4 linked regions of the Homo sapiens genome follow. The protein of the gene in region 4 purifies or fractionates together with the protein of the main gene of each other region. This does not show direct contact. Each region holds a gene or a part of one and is shown on either strand. Other genes may lie near its edges.

Region 1 (3,603 bases), on a different chromosome or scaffold from region 4:
TACGTTTTAAATTAAAAATGTGTATTTTGTGGTGTGTTGAAATGTAGAATATTGGTTATTACAGCTGCTGTAGCAATTTTTCCTTGTTAAATATATAGTTTATCAATTAAAAATTTTAGTCTGGGCGACATAGTGAGACCCCATCTCTACAAAAAAAAAAATTAGCATGGTGTGGTGGTACACGCCTGTAGTCCCAGCTACTTGGGAGGCTGAAGTGGGAAGATCCTTTGAGCTGGGAGGTGGAGGCTGCAGTGAGCTGTGATCGTGCCACTGCACTCCAGCCTGGGCAACATGGCGAGACCCTGTCTCAAAAGCAAAAAAAATTCAGTAAGTAAAGTCAAACGATTGGTTATGCTTAATATGTGTAGTTTCCATTGGCTAATGCTTTTAGCTGTTAATTACTGTATTTGATTAACCAGTATTTGAATACAGTAATTAGACTATTAACTATAATTGTCAAAACTGAAGTCAAATTTAATATTGCTTTTCAGGCTAAGATTCTGTTCTTTAATATTCCAGTATTTGTGAAGTAATCCTCCGAATTTTAGTAGAAGTCCACCACACTATTTAGTATTTTCAGATAGTACTTCATTGAAGGCACAAAATCTTGAGCTGAAAATGAAAGTACACATAAGATCCTAATGAATGGTTTTTGTTCCTGGTAGCTGGTAGCTAACAGAGGCTAGGTTCAAATTGATTATGAAAATATGAGCAAGTAAAACATGATATGCTATTAGTTGAAAAATATACTAATTTTAACAATGGGGTCCTCTAGTTGCACAAGCTTGATAGTTCAATTTTGTTGGTTTTTTTTTTTGTTTTTTTTTTTTTTTTGAGATGGAGTCGCCCTTTGACTCCCAGGCTGGAGTGCAGTGGTGTGATCTCGGCTCACTGCAACCTTTGCTTCCTGGGTTCAAGCGATTCTCCTGCCTCAGCCTCCCGAGTAGCTGGGATTACAGGCACGCACCACCACACCTGGCTAATTTTTGTATTTTTATTAGAGACAGGGTTTCACCATGTTGGCCAGGCTGGTCTTGAACTTTTGGCCTCAAGTGATCTGCCCGCTGCAGCCTCCCAAAGTGCTGGCATTACAGGCATGAGCCACTGTGGCCAGCCTACTTTTTGTTTTTTTGAGGCAAGGTCTTGCTGTGTCATCCAGGCTGGAGTGCAGTAGCGAAATGATAGTTCACTGTAGCTTCAAACTCCTGGACTCAAGTGATGCTCCCACCACAGCCTCCTGAATACCTGGAGCTATGAGCCTGTGCCACCATGCTGGGCTAAGTTTTTTTTTTTTTCCTGTAGAGACAGGATTTCGCTTAGTTGTCCAGGGCCGGTCTCTGACTCCTGGCCTCAAGCGATCTTCCGTGTCATTGTTGGGATTACAAGCATGAGCCACTGTTCCCTAATTTTGTTGCTATTCTTAATGATTAATCAGGAGTGGGCAAAAAAAGCAGGAATAGTGAGTTCTCTCATCTTGACCTTTTAAGTGAAGACTTTTCTTTTTGATAAAGCTTAGCTATGTGTTAATTATTTAATAATAGGCAGTTAAATTGCATTATTGTGGCTACACATGAGTTATTATAAAGTGGTGAAAAGTAGCATAAATGCTAACTTTAGAGAAAGGCTGTAAATACAGTTTTTGTTTCATTCAATGTGTGTGTTATACTAGATTAGAATATTAGTTGACATGTATGTTAGTGCTATAGAATTACATTAAAATATTGTTGAATAATCATGCTATAAACACTTTTTCAACTTGGCTACTGGGACAAATTACCTAATATCTTTGTTTGAAAAGCATTAATGTGTGAAATATTTTGATTAAAAATACAGCTAAAGATATTCAAATACTTTTTTTGGCAGTTGCTAATTTGTCCTCCTGTTACTCGGTTCTTCTATGGATGCAGAGAATATTTCCATAAACTGTTAATTCAGGGTGATTCTTCTGGAAGGTTGAATATTTGGAACATATCAGACACAGCTGATAAACAGGGAAGTGAAGAAGGTAATAGTAAATCATGTGTAACAATTTCTTAATTAATTTAATATCTTAAATACCAACTACTGAATAACATTCATAATGTACATATATCATTTTCTTTGATTACTGGATCAATCAACATTATTTTAATGTTTTAAATTTTTTTTAACATGCACAAATGTTTTTCTTTTATACAAAACCAAACCTCTACAGGGCTGGCAATGACAACTTCTATTAGTTTGCAAGAGGCATTTGATAAACTGAATCCTTGTCCTGCTGGAATTATAGATCAGCTGAGTGTGATTCCCAATAGTAATGAACCTCTTAAAGTAACTGCAAGTGTGTACATACCAGCACATGGACGACTTGTTTGTGGTCGTGAAGATGGAAGCATAGTTATTGTACCTGCCACACAGACGGCCATAGTACAGCTGTTGCAAGGGGAACACATGCTCAGAAGAGGTATACTGAAGAGCTCCGTATGTCTAAAGTGTTTTGACAACTCTTACCCAGAGAGTGAAAATGTCTCTGTTTTTTGTTTTTAAATAAATACAGTGAATCAGTGTAGTTAGTTGTTGGGGTGCTATGTAGTTGGTAGAGTTTAATGCACAGATAAAATATTCAGTGCCTGTTATTAGAATTAATACAATGTAATGACTGTAAATAAAGAAGTATCCAATTTTATCTCTTTGAGATATGTTAATAGTTTCATCTCTTAGTTATCTCTATGGATTACTAAATAATTACTGTATTACCAGTAATTCTGAAAATCCTCCAGAACAGTACCATCCAATAGAAATCTTTTTTTTTTTTTTTTCCGAGAAAGAGTCTCACTGTGTTGCTCAGACTAGAGTGCAGTGGCATGATCTCGGCTCACTACAATCTCTGCCTCCTGAGTTCAAGCAGTTCTCCTGCACAGCCCCCCAAGTAGCTGGGATTATAGGCATGTGCCACCACACCCAGCTAATTTTTGTATTTTTTGTAGGGACAGTTTCACCATGTTGGCCAGGCTGGTCTCGAACTCCTGACCTCAAGTGATCTGCCTGCCTCGGCCTCTCAACAGCCAGTGGAAATCGAATGTCAACCATATATATATAACCATACCTGTAATTTCCTAATAGCTGTGTTAAAAAATAAAATGAAACAGTTGAAATTGACTATATTTTATATAACCCAATATAGCAAAAACTATTTTCATTTCAACTTCTAATCAATATGAAGATTGTTGATGAAATATTTTAGGTTTTTTGTATCAACTCTTCAAAATCTCATGACTAGTTTAAATTCACAGCACATAGGAATCTGGATTACCCCCATTTCAAGTGCTCAGTAGTCTCATGTGGCTAGTAGATACTGAATTAGGCAGAGTTGTGTTAGAAGATAAAATTGGAAGCCTTTGCTGTGATATAATTTGTAGCTATTCTAAACATTCATGTTTACTTTTACTTACTGAAACTTGGTAAACCTTTAATTTTCCCATTTTAAATCCAAACCCTCATTCACAGGTTGGCCACCTCACAGAACACTCCGTGGTCATCGGAACAAAGTCACATGTTTGCTATATCCTCATCAGGTCTCAGCTCGGTATGATCAAAGATACCTGATATCTGGAGGTGTGGATT
Region 2 (3,603 bases), on a different chromosome or scaffold from region 4:
AGGGAAAAGGAGGAACAGGACAAGATACCAGCCCTGCGGCTTTGCACGGCGCCCACAGGACAGCTCAGCAGAGTGGCCAGTGCCACTGATCCGGCCCCTGCACAGGGAGAACTGCTCCGCCCACCATGCAGGCCCTGTGAGGTCAGGATGAGTGCAGGTGCCTTGTGGGCCCAGTTCTGCAGCTAGCTGATGGTCAGCAGGAGGGGTCTGCAGCTGCGACCTGGGGAACAGTGCTGACCCACGCCCCTGCCGCCTGCCACGGCCTCATTGAGCTGCATTGTTAGTGGTGTCAGAGATGAGCTGTCTCTCACAGACCTGGGTCCCCTATACCATGCAGCTTGAGAGGTTGCTCCAGATCCCCTGGGATCGCTGGCAGGGGTAAGAGACCAGCTCAGGAGGGGCCGCTCTGTCTGAGGGTCCAGATGGCCTGTGGGGTTCCCCACATCTGGACACTGGGTGGGGCGCACCTTGGGGGATGCACAGAGACCCCACAGTCGGAGGACCACGCAGTGGGGCGGCCACCCCGAGGTGCTGGCTAGCGGGTCCTGGGACCACACACTCCTGAGCGTGCTGAGAGCCCCAGGCCCAGGAGGTGAACACGAGTGCTGTGAGTGCCACTCAGCACAGCCTCTGATGGGGCTGAGACAGGTCACCATCCCTGCAGCCCTGCACAGTGCCCACAGGACAGCTCAGCAGGCTGGCCAGAGCCCTACCCACCTGGCCTGTCCTGCAGGCAGCAAAGCAGCCCAGGGAAGCAAAGCAAAACCTGATACACCCGTTTATCTAAAAGAGCCGTCTTAACAAACGTTAATAAAATGGGCTCTGCACCTATTTCAGCCACGAGCTTCCATGGAGGGGCCAAACTCTCCATGCTTCTTTCCCTAAACACCAACACCGTGAGAGCCGATGTCTTGTGACTATTTCTGGAGACTGGGGCGGCCGCCCACAGAGGCCTATTTGCAGTGAGGAGCAGATGGCGGTGGGCGCCCTGGGGAGCTGCCTGTGGCCAGCCCAGCCTTCACAGGATGCGTCTCACCACAGCCTCTCCAGTCCTGTGAGGTAGAGAAGAAGCTCCTGGACATCCTGGAGTCACTGCCCAGGGAGGCTCTGGGTCACGGGGGTGGGGACAGGCCTGGGCGTCCTGCCTCCCGCCCACAGCAGCCGACTGCCTGTCCTTTCATGTTTCTGCCACACTTGGTCTGGGCTTTGCGTTCAAGAAGCCCATTCCAAGTGCAGTGCCTGGCTCAGAGGACAGACCAGGTCATCCCTCCCAGCCCCGCATGGCTTCAGGCCCACTGCACTTCCCTGCTCTGCCGCCTGAGGCAAGGGCCAGCTTCTCTGCAGCACAAGGGCCTGCAGCACCCCACGTGCTCAGCACACAGTGGGCATTGACTATTTTAACCCAGGGAAACATTTTGTACACAAAGTTGGAAAAAAATGACAAGTGCAGACTTTGTATTACTGGGCAGTTTGAGCATCCCTTAATCTGCGGCACATGTGGATGAGACCATGTGGCCTCGGCCCAACCTCGGCCGATTCTCCTGTTGTGGGGGGACTCACCCTGACTCTAAGCATCTGAGGGTGAGAGATTTCCTGATAAGGAGAGATGATGAATTCTGGGTGGAGTGAAACTCCAGAAAAGCCTTCATAGGTGGTAAACCCAAAAATATTTAAATATAAGAGAGATTGCTAGATAATTCTAGAAAGTACTTTTAAAAATATTCCTGATTCTAAGAAGGGTGGAGAGTTTTGAAGGAGGCCCAAATGACTTCTCACTCTTAAGGGTTTCAGCTTCAGGAACAGGCAGCCTGTAACATTCTACAAGGCAGACGCGTGTCTCCATGAAGTTACACCTGAGGCTTTAGTTCCATTCCATTCAGTAAACATATCCTAAGCACCTATTCTATACAGGCACTGGCCTTGACATCCAAAATTAAAACTCTGAAAACAGCACATTCAGCTCTGTGTCCGTAGGATTTAATCCAGTGATTTTCATTGCACTTTCATTAAAAAAAATTCAACCCTCAGGCAAGACAACAGTGACTGTAAGATATGCGTTAGAGGTGTGTGTTTTAAAACATCCCCAGGGTTGTGTGGGGACAGTGGTTTGTAGGGTAACCTGTGGTTATGAACAAGGAGGCTCTTGGTGGGGTGTGTTCATTCTGAGCTGGGCGTTCTTGCCACAACTGCAGGCAGGGGATGCTCTGGAGATGGAGGTGAGCCCAGAGCCTGACCCACCCAACTCCCTCTGCCCTGACCAGGGGTTGGCCAAGCTGTCAGGAGCAGGGCATTCTTGGGGGCTGGCCTGGACACACTCTGCTGCCCGTGTCCACAGAAACCCCCTGAGAGGCCACAGCCTCGGGGCCACCACTGCCCAGAGAATGGAAGACGCTTTGCAGCTGGCCCACCATGACCAAAACGGCTGGTGCCAGGAGCAGGGAGGTTGTTGTTACTTCCAACACAGGTTTCCTTGGGGCTGGGGAGTTTACCCTCCGTCGTTCAGCAACATGACTGACCGCCTACCGCTGTGCCCACTGTGAGACCAAGCAAGACCACCAGCTCTCGCTTCAGTTGTTTGGTTAGTGGGTGACCTGCCTGTAATATATTTCATTGTTAGAATTTCTACTTGTGTTTTTGGAAGTCCACCTGTCCTTATTTCATAATGTCCTGTTCTTGCCTAATAGATTCCATTCCATTGTCTCTGAACATTTTAAACTTGTTACTTCAAGCACCTGGCACCACTCCTGCAGGTCTCGGCGTGAGTTCAGCTTCTTGCTGGGCCTGCTGGGTCCTCATGGATTTAATTTCTTCCTGTGATTTGCCCTTTTTGTCCATGATCTCACTTCTGGGAGAGGCTGACCCTGAACACATGCGCACACGGGGGACAAAGACTCTGGCCCCAGGCGTGGGGGGCTCAGGGTTAGGGACATACTCAAGTAGAGGTGTAAGATGAGCAGCTCTGACCACCCAGCCTTGGGGGGATCGGGGGCTTAGGGTGGGGGACATACTCAGGTAGATGTGGAAGATGAGCAGCTGGCCCAGGTGCACCAAGCCAAGAAAGTCCAGCAGGAGCACGAGCATCCCGATGATCACGACTATCAGGGTCTGCACCTGCACCGGGAACAGGGGGAGGAACAGCAGCCACGTGTTCATATTCTTGACATCTGGGGAGACAAGGGAGAGCCACTGTGTCCAGCACCTGCTGACGGGTGCCACATCAGGTGGACGTCACAGACCAGAGCGTGCTGGGGATGGGGCGGTGTGGGGACAGCCAGTGCGAGGGATGTCTCCCTGCCCAGGTGGACGCCTCCCTTACCTGAGTGCCCCGTAGGCCCTGCTGCCTTCGGTTGGTTTTCATGATCCCTGCTTTATGGATCTGGGAGGTGAGGCTCCAACATTGTCACTAAGTGCCGGGGTCACAGTGCCCACCCCTTCCTAAGTGCTGGGGTCACAGCGCCCACCCCTTGCTCACTAAGAGCCAGGGTCACAGCGCCCACCCCTTCCTAAGTGCCGGGGTCACAGCGCCCACCCCCCTTCCTCACTAAGTGCCGGGGTCACAGTGCCCACCCCTTCCTCACTAAGTGCCGGGGTCACAGTGCCCAC
Region 3 (3,603 bases), on a different chromosome or scaffold from region 4:
AAGACTCTGTCTCAAAAAATAAACTAAAAACAAAAGAGAACTGAAGAAGACATTTCAAGGAAGCATAATTTGTGGAATTTGTTTAGGTCCTATTAAAAAAAAGACATTAGGCTGGGCACGGTGGCTCATGCCTGTAATCCCAGCACTTTGGGAGGCTGAGGCGGGAGGATCACCTGAGGTCAGGAGTTCGAGACCAGCCTGGCCAACATGGTGAAACCCTGTCTCTACTAAAAATACAAAAATTAGCCGGGCATGGTGGCTTGAGGCTGTAGTCTCAGCTATTCGGGAGGCTGAGGCAGGAGAATCACTTGAACCCGGGAGGTGGAGGTTGTGGTGAGCTGAGATCATGCCACTGCACTCCAGCCTAGATGACAGAGCGAGACTCCATCGCAAAAAATAAATAATTAATTAATTTTAAAAAGACATTAATGAAGCAATTGGGAACATATGAACACTGAATAGACAGGACGTTAAGGAATTATTGTTAGTTTTTTTTGGTGTGAAAATGCTACTAGGGTAATATTAATAGAGTATTTATCTCATATACTGAAGTATTTAAGGAAGAAATTATGTGCAGGGTTTGTTTGAAAATAATCTAGTAGGGGTAGGGATGAAGTAGAATAGAAAGAAGGTTGGCTATGAACTGCTGGGTGATGGGTACAGTACATGGAGTTCATCATACTATTCGATTTTTTTTTTTTTTTTGAGACAGAGTCTCGCTCTGTTGCCCGTGCTGGAGTGCAGTGACGCGATCTCGGCTCACTGCAAGCTCCGCCTCCCAGGTTCACGCCATTTTCCTGCCTCAGCCTCCCGAGTAGCTGGGACTACAGGCGCCCGCCACCACGCCTGGCTAATTTTTTGTATTTTTAGTAGAGATGGGGTTTCACCATGTTAGCCAGGATGGTCTTGATCTCCTGACCTCGTGATCCACCCGTCTTGGCCTCCCAAAGTGCTGGGATTACAGGCGTGAGCCACCGCGCCCGGCCAGTTTTTTTTTTGAGACTGAGTCTCGCTCTGTTGCCCAGGCTAGAATACAATGGCGTGATCTCGGCTCACCTCAACCTCCACCTCCCAGGTTCAAGTGATTCTTCTGCCTCAGCCTCCCGAGTAGCTGAGATTACAGGTGTGCGCCACCACATCCAGCCGATTTTTTGTATTTTTAGTAGAGACGGGGTTTCACCATGTTGGCCAGGCTGGTCTAGAACTCCTAGGCTCTAGCAATCCACCCACCTCAGCCTCCCAAAGTGCTAGGATTACAGGTGTGAGCCACTGCACCTGGCCCATCATACTATTCTCTATTCTACTTTTGTGTATGTTTACAATTTCTATAGTAAGTTAATAAAAGCCCAGCCAAGACTGAAATAAAAGTTGGTCAGGCGTGGTGGCTCACGCCTGTAATCCCAGCACTTTGGGAGGCTGAGGCAGGTGGATCACGAGGTCAGGAGATCAAGACCATCCTGGCTAACACGGTGAAACCCTGTCTCTACTAAAAATACAAAAAAATAAGTCAGGCGTGGTGGTGGGCGCCTGTAGTCCCAGCTACTTGGGAGGCTGAAGCAGAAGAATGGCGTGAACCCAGGAGGCGGAGCTTGCAGTGAGCCGAGATTGTGCCACTGCACTCCAGCCTGGGCAACATAGTCAGACTCTGTCTCAAAAAAAAAAAAAAAAAAAAGTTGCAGATGATTAAAGTTCCCCTTTAAAAATTCTATAATAACAGTGCCCTTTACACTTTCTTTACACTTGCAGGAAAAGGGAAAAAAACCCTCATAAACAAGTTTAATGACAAGCAGCACCTTGTTTCTTATTCGATCTCTCTTGACCACTTCTTCTTTCTTTTCAGTTTTTTCTGAGCTGCCTATTGATTCTGTACTTTCAGCCTTCTTTCCTTTATCCCGAAGTGTGTCTTTCTCTTTTTTCATTTCTTCTTCTTTTCTCTTAAAAGTCTTCTCTTTCTCATAGCGCTCCTTCTGCCTACGGCGCTCTTCTTCTTGCCGCTTCAGCCTCTCTCTTTCTCGAAGTATGCGCTCCTGATCTCGTTCATATTCCCGTTCCCTCTCCCTATAGTCTCTGCCGCTCTCATCTTCAGGTCTGCATGAAAAACAAATCTGAGACAGAACCCTGAAAGATCTTGTAATCACAAATGCAGGAACACTGTGATTCTGATTTGGCCCCTGCAATGAGGTTGCACTTTTAGAGCAGAGTGAAAAATACTAGTGTTTTAAGAAGGAACAAAACCCCAAAACCATTCACCCAGATTAAGATACAAGAATATTCTGAAACTGTTCCTCCTCATCCCCCTGCCCTGCATAAAACAGCTTATCTTAATTCAGGTACATGTCCAGGACATAGCAGCAAAACTAGCATGTATAAATCAAACATAACAAAGAGTCCTTGACTACTGACCTCTTTGGTTTTTCATCTTTAAGTTCGCTATCAGAACGCTTGGGCAATGTACAACTTTGCCCACTGGCTCTTTCATCACTGAGATTCTCTTTGTCCAATTTCTTGGCTTTTTCTCTTTTGTCCAATTCTTTTTCATCTCCTTTTTCTGGCTTCTTGAGCAGCTTTAAAGATAAAATGTTTATTTTTATTTTGAAGGCTGGGACACTATCTTCTATTAAAAACCCAGTATACCAAATATTTAAAATTTAGACTAGACAAAGCCCCCTATCTCTGCAGGTACACTTAATCTTTCAGGTGAACAACTAGTGCATAAGAGTAGTAATTTACTAAAAGGATGCTATTAATGTTAAAGTGTTATCCACTTGAACGAAGTGGTTTAATCACTTTGTGGCAATAGGATCAAGACTCCTTTGGCTTTTATTCTGAGGCAGGGTCTCACTACTCTGTTGCCCATGCTGGAGTGCAGTGGCATGAACATGGCTCACCGCAACCTTGACCTCCTGGGCTTAAGTGGTCCTCCTGCCTCAGCCTCTTGAGTAGCTAGGACAACAGATGCACACCACCACATATGGCTAATTTTTTAATTTTTTTGTAGAGACAAGGTCTCATCATGTCACCCAGGCTGTTCTCAAACTTCTGGGCTCACACCATCCTTCTGCCTCGGCCTCCCACAGTGCTGAGATTACAGGTGTGAGCCACTGTGCCCGGCTTCCTTTGGCTTTAAATGGGTCAACCTTTAAGTGAACCAATGCATACTTCAAAGTATGCTTCTGTAGCAAACCAGCATGTTGATATAACTTAATGGGAAACAGCCCACAAATTTTAAGTGATAGGCAGATCGTTTCTGTTGGGACTGTTTTTATGTAGTACTTGGAATGACAAATACCTTGGTCACCAAAGGAGAGATCCATTGCAGGAATAATTTTGCCTTGAGCCTGAGAATAACATACTTATGATGGTACAATTATCTTGCCATTAGAGATTAATAACAAGAATTATTTGGCATTTGATTTAAAAATCTAAAGGCCTTATACAACCAAATAGTGAAGTTCCATCTCTACTGAGTAGGAACTCTGTATTTAATGCCATATTTACGCATGTTCAAAAATGCCATTGTTTTTTACATTGCTGCTATGAATCTCTCGAGAATACCTCCAAGTGTCGGATAATCAGAGAGATTCTTAGGCAAAATAGAAGAAT
Region 4 (5,009 bases):
TGATTACATTTATATACAAAAGAGTAAGCAAAGCATGCCATTTAAAAGGTTCAAAAACTGACAAAGCTAACCTATGGTGACAAAAGTTAAGAGAAAGAGTTGCTGGAGGGGAATCCTGGGCTTCACTATCCAATACATCTGGCTATTTAATTTAAATAAATTAAAATTAAAAATTTAATTCCTTAGAAACATTAGCCACATTTCAAGCACTCAGTAGTTACATTTGGATAATGGCTATTGTATTGAATGGGAAAGACAGAGAATGTAGAGAATTTCCATCTTCACAGAAAGTTTTATTTATCAGCACTGTTCTAGGATGATGGGAATTTTCTGTATCTTGATCTGGGAAGTAGTTATATGCATGTATCAATATGAAAAAATTCACCAAGCAGTATACTAAAGATTTGTGCACTTTTTATTTTTTTTTTTTTTAATTTTTGAGACAGGGTCTTGCTCTGTTGCCCAGGCTGGAGTGCAATGGTGCAATCATAGTTCACTGCAACCTCTGCCTCCCGGACCCAAGCCATCCTCCCACCTGAGCCTCCCAAGTAGCTGGGTCTACAGCCATACACCACCACGCTCGGCTAATTTCTGTATTTTTTGTAGAGACGGGGTTTTGTCATGTTCCTCAGGCTGGTCTTGAACTTTTGAGCTTAAGCAATCTGCCCACCTTGGCCTCCCAAAGTGCTGGGATTACAGGCATGAGCTACCATGCCCAGCCAAGATCTGTACACTTTATTGTATTAAGTTATAACTCAATAATTAAGTAAATACATGAACATATGTTTTTAAAATGACTAGCAGAAAACATATACAATATATATAACTGTAGATTCACATCTAAAATATGAAGAATTCATATGAATCAATAAGAACAGGGGAGCAACCTAAAAGAAAAATCATAGGCGATTCACAGGAAAGGACGGCTAACGAACATATTAAAAGATGCTCAGGTTCATGAAAATTCAGAAAAATACAATCTAAAACACTGAGATACTACTTTTGACCATCATGTTAACAAAAATTTATATGGTTGGTAATACCAATTGTTTATAAGAAATTGAGGCTGGGCACAGTGGCTCATGCCTATAATCCCAGCACTTTGGGAGGCCGAAACAGAGGATTGCTTGAGGTCAGGAGTTTAGGACCAGCTTGGGCAACATAGCAAGACTCCATCTTTACAAAAATTTTAAAAGTGAAAAAATCAGCCTGGCATGGTGGTGAGCACTTGTAGTCCCAGCTACCTAGGAGGCTAAGGTCAGAGGATCACTTGAGCCCAGCAAGTCAAGGCTGCAGTGAGCCATGATCATGCCACTGCATTCCAGCCTATGCAACAGAATGAGATCCTGTCTCCAAAAAAAAAAAAAAATCCATAAAACCATGTATTAATATGTACACACATATATGTATTATACATCAATGCAGAGAAACAGTTATAAGAAATATAACCCAAACCAATAATACTTGTTAGTTACTTCAAGGAATGCAAGTCAAAATTAGTGGATGGTGGCTTTCACTTTTTATTTTTTTGAGACAGGGTCTTGCTCTGTTGCCCAGGCTGGAGAACAGTGACACAATCATAGCTCACTGCAGCCTTAACCTCCCGGGCTCAATTGATTCTTCTACCTCAGCCTCCCGAGTAGCTGGGACTACAGGTGTACGCTACCCCAGTCGGCTAATTTTTTTTTTTTTTTTTTTGGTAGAAATAGGGTTTACCATGTTGCCCAGGCTGGTCTTGAATTCCTGGGCTCAAGCAATCCAACCCCACCTCGGCCTCCCAAAGTGTTGGGATTACAGGCGTTGAGCCTCTTTCATTTTTACTAGATTACAATTTTCACAATAGAATGTTTTCAGGCCGGGTGCAGTGGATCATGTCTGTAATCCTAGCACTTTGGGAGGCTGAGGCAGGCAGATGGCTTGAGTTCAGGAATTTAAGACAAGCCTGGACAACAGGGCAAAACCCCACCTCTATAAAAACCACGAAAAATTAGCCAGGCATGGTGGCATGCACCTGTAGTTCCAGCTACTTGAGAAGCTGCGGTGGGAGGATCACTTGATCCCAGGAGGTCAAGGCTGCAGTAAGCTACAGTCATGCCACTGCACTCCCACCTGGGTGACAAAGAGAGACTCTGTGTCAAAAAAAAAACAACAAAAAAAAAACAAAACAAAACCCTTAAAAACAACTATTGCTGCTGTTGTTGTTGAGTTATTGCTGTTCTACATCCTAATGGTGTATATGACTTCAAACTATTTTTGAACAGATAAAAGCTAATCATATAATTGAAGGATATTTACTTTTGTTCTCTCTATATATTTTTGGATTTTTTCTTTTTCTTTAAGTCAATAAATTTTTGTTCAAGTAATTCCATGTTGTGATTTCTTCCACTGTCCATCAAGGTCACTTCAGATCCTCTAAAGAGCTGGAGTCAAAAGATTTATCTTCAAGTTAGCCCTTTTTAATGAAACTGATGCTTATTTTAATCCAGCTGTCCTGTTAGCCCATAATTCTTTTATTTTGGCTTCTGTCATCTCCTTTTAATATGGATATACTGATGAAGACTTCAAAATTCACCAAGAATCTTTGGGATCTAACTTCTTCAACCAATTTACTTTAGGGTCCTTTTTACTGTAGGTGGTGGATCTGCCTGGTTCTCAATTTGACACCCTAAGCGATCATACTCAAGAATAGTACAGATGTGTGGAATACGCCAATACCTTTAACTACAGACATCATGTTCTCAAGATAAAAGCCTTTAAAACAAAAAGCCATCGTAGGTATCAAGTCAACATGAAATTGGAATGCAAAATTAATACTGCTGAGGATTTCCTTCATATCCCATGCTGTTTAACTATCTCTTCCACAGTCCTAGAATCAATCTTTTTTAATTAAGAGACAGGGTCTGTCTTTGTTACCCAGGCTGGAGTACAGTGGTGTCATCAAAGCTCAGTGCAGCCTCCAACTCCTGGGCTCAATACTCTTGCCTCAGCCTCCTCTTCCTGAGTAGCTGCAACTACAGACACATGCCCCAATACTCAGCTAATTTTTAAATTTTTGTGGAGATGAGGTGTTTGTTACTTTCTTATACAGGCTGGTCTTGAACTCCTGGCTTCAAGCAATACTCCCACCTTGGTGTGGGGCTTGCAGGCTTGAGCCATTGTGCCTGGTCTGGGACCAACCTTTATGGCTATCAATATTCCCATCAGTTAACTGTCTCAGGTATCATAATATCCCTTCTTATATGTATCAAAACTCATACTGAACAATGAGTTCTGGGTTGCAAAAGAGGATTTATTTTTTGCACCTATCCATAAGTCTTTGTCCACAAGTTAAACAAAAACATACATAAGTGCAGTTGGATTTTCTTTTTTAAACATCTGAGCATTCACTGCTCAGTTTATAAATCACCTTATATATGATGACGTGATCTACTTAAACTTCAAAACATTTCTCAATTACAGAAATGGCAAACCTAAAAGCCCCAAAAGTTTATTTAGATTTCTTTAATCTTTAAACATAGACTTTGTCCAATCTTTTAAAGGTCCTTGATTAAATCAAGACCACATTTATCTATGTCATTGGGAAATCCTTACCTTTAGTTTCTTTAAACAGTCTATATCTTTATCTTTAAACATAAACACTTTTTTTTTCTTTTGAGACAAGAGTCTTGCTCTGTTGCCCAGGCTGGAGTGCAGTGGTGCAATCTCGGCTCACTGCAACCTCCCACTGCTGGGTTCAAATGATTCTCCTGCCTCAGCCTCCCCAGTAGCTGGAACTACAGGTGTGCGCCACTGTGCCCAGCTAATTTTTGTACTTTTAGTAGAGACAGGGTTTCACCATGTTGGCCAGACTTATCTTGAACTCCTGACCTCAGGTGATCTGCCCACCTCAGCCTCCCAAAGTGCTGGGATTACAGGCGTAAGCCACCGCATCTGGCCTAAACATAGACTTTTTGGATAATTTTCCTTACTCAAAGCACTATCTTCTACTAGGATGAAGTTATATAAACCACAAAATAAATTAAAATGGAAAGAACTAGTGCATCCTACCTGGGTTACTGGAATGTAGAGAGGTTCTCCATTATGCAGCAGTGTAAGTTTCCCATGCTGATAGAGCCGTCCTTCCGGCCTTAAATTTGCCATCTCCTTAGGTCCTCCTTTCTTGCCACTCTCTTGTCCATTTCCTTTAAGTTCTTCAGTATCACTTAGGCATTCAAAAAATTCTTCTTCGCTGTCACTCCAGGAATCCCAAGATTTTCCTACCTCTCCCTTTTCCTTATCTGTTTCTTTTAGATTATCTGGCACCAACTGGTCTCCTGCTTTTCCAGCATCCCCTGGATATATATTAGTGACATCTGAAGCACTTGTCTTTTTCCCCTCATCACGTGCCTTCTTTCTTTCAATACAACAATTTAACATCTTAAGAAAAGAGAAATAACATTTATAGTTGAATTAGTTACAGAAAAATAAAAATCTACCTACTGCTTGAATATTTAATTTTCACTCTCCACTTCTCAGGACCTTGTGAATTGCAGTGACTACTGACTATAGGCAACCTACAGCAGCACCATGAGAACAGCATGTAACCCATTATTACATTTAGTATTAGAATAATCTGATTAAATCAAGACCACATTTATCCATGTCATTGAGAAATCTTTACCTGTAGTTTCTGATGCAGTAAACAACACCTCAGATCTGGGGGTCCACTTGCTAATCTATCAAATAAAGTAAGGAGAAAAGAAAGCTTAGTTTTAGTAAAATTGCTTCAGATATGATTATTTTCTATACTACCATAATTTTTAGCTATATTGATAAGAAATCAAAACTAGATTTCCACAGGTAAGGTAAGTGAATTCCAGAGGGGGAGCACATAGAATTAAAAGATGAAAATTTATTTTATACTCCTTGTCCACAAATCACCAATAGCAAATATAATAGATATTTCAAAACATAACAGCAAATTAGTGATAGTTTTCAGGCTAACAAAAACTCAAAATGAGAAAAAGCCC

The links.
Region 1: the proteins of RAB3GAP1 (region 4) and WDR7 purify together in Homo sapiens (affinity purification with western blotting, with the first as the bait; one study listed by BioGRID). This does not show direct contact.
Region 2: the proteins of RAB3GAP1 (region 4) and ZDHHC11 purify together in Homo sapiens (co-immunoprecipitation; one large-scale study listed by IntAct). This does not show direct contact.
Region 3: the proteins of RAB3GAP1 (region 4) and UPF3B fractionate together in Homo sapiens (co-fractionation; one large-scale study listed by BioGRID). This does not show direct contact.

What each region holds. Positions count from the first base shown.
Region 1 is NC_000018.10:56,692,756-56,696,358, forward strand, and holds part of WDR7 (WD repeat-containing protein 7), read left to right. Parts: intron 1-1,863; coding exon 1,864-2,005; intron 2,006-2,194; coding exon 2,195-2,443; intron 2,444-3,486; coding exon 3,487-3,603.
Region 2 is NC_000005.10:837,487-841,089, forward strand, and holds part of ZDHHC11 (palmitoyltransferase ZDHHC11), read right to left. Parts: exon of another isoform or gene 3,359-3,603; coding exon of another isoform or gene 3,317-3,358; intron 3,165-3,316; coding exon 3,009-3,164; coding exon of another isoform or gene 2,933-3,008; exon of another isoform or gene 2,862-2,932; coding exon of another isoform or gene 2,733-2,861; exon of another isoform or gene 2,596-2,732; coding exon of another isoform or gene 2,486-2,595; exon of another isoform or gene 1,956-2,485; intron 1,053-1,955; coding exon of another isoform or gene 1,019-1,052; exon of another isoform or gene 1-1,018. UniProt on the Homo sapiens protein: Endoplasmic reticulum-localized palmitoyltransferase that could catalyze the addition of palmitate onto various protein substrates and be involved in a variety of cellular processes.
Region 3 is NC_000023.11:119,835,964-119,839,566, forward strand, and holds part of UPF3B (regulator of nonsense transcripts 3B), read right to left. Parts: intron 2,565-3,603; coding exon 2,404-2,564; intron 2,089-2,403; coding exon 1,794-2,088; intron 1-1,793. UniProt on the Homo sapiens protein: Involved in nonsense-mediated decay (NMD) of mRNAs containing premature stop codons by associating with the nuclear exon junction complex (EJC) and serving as link between the EJC core and NMD machinery.
Region 4 is NC_000002.12:135,134,971-135,139,979, reverse strand, and holds part of RAB3GAP1 (rab3 GTPase-activating protein catalytic subunit), read right to left. Parts: intron 4,716-5,009; coding exon 4,661-4,715; intron 4,417-4,660; coding exon 4,048-4,416; intron 3,353-4,047; exon of another isoform or gene 3,225-3,352; intron 1-3,224. UniProt on the Homo sapiens protein: Catalytic subunit of the Rab3 GTPase-activating (Rab3GAP) complex composed of RAB3GAP1 and RAB3GAP2, which has GTPase-activating protein (GAP) activity towards various Rab3 subfamily members (RAB3A, RAB3B, RAB3C and RAB3D), RAB5A and RAB43, and guanine nucleotide exchange factor (GEF) activity towards RAB18.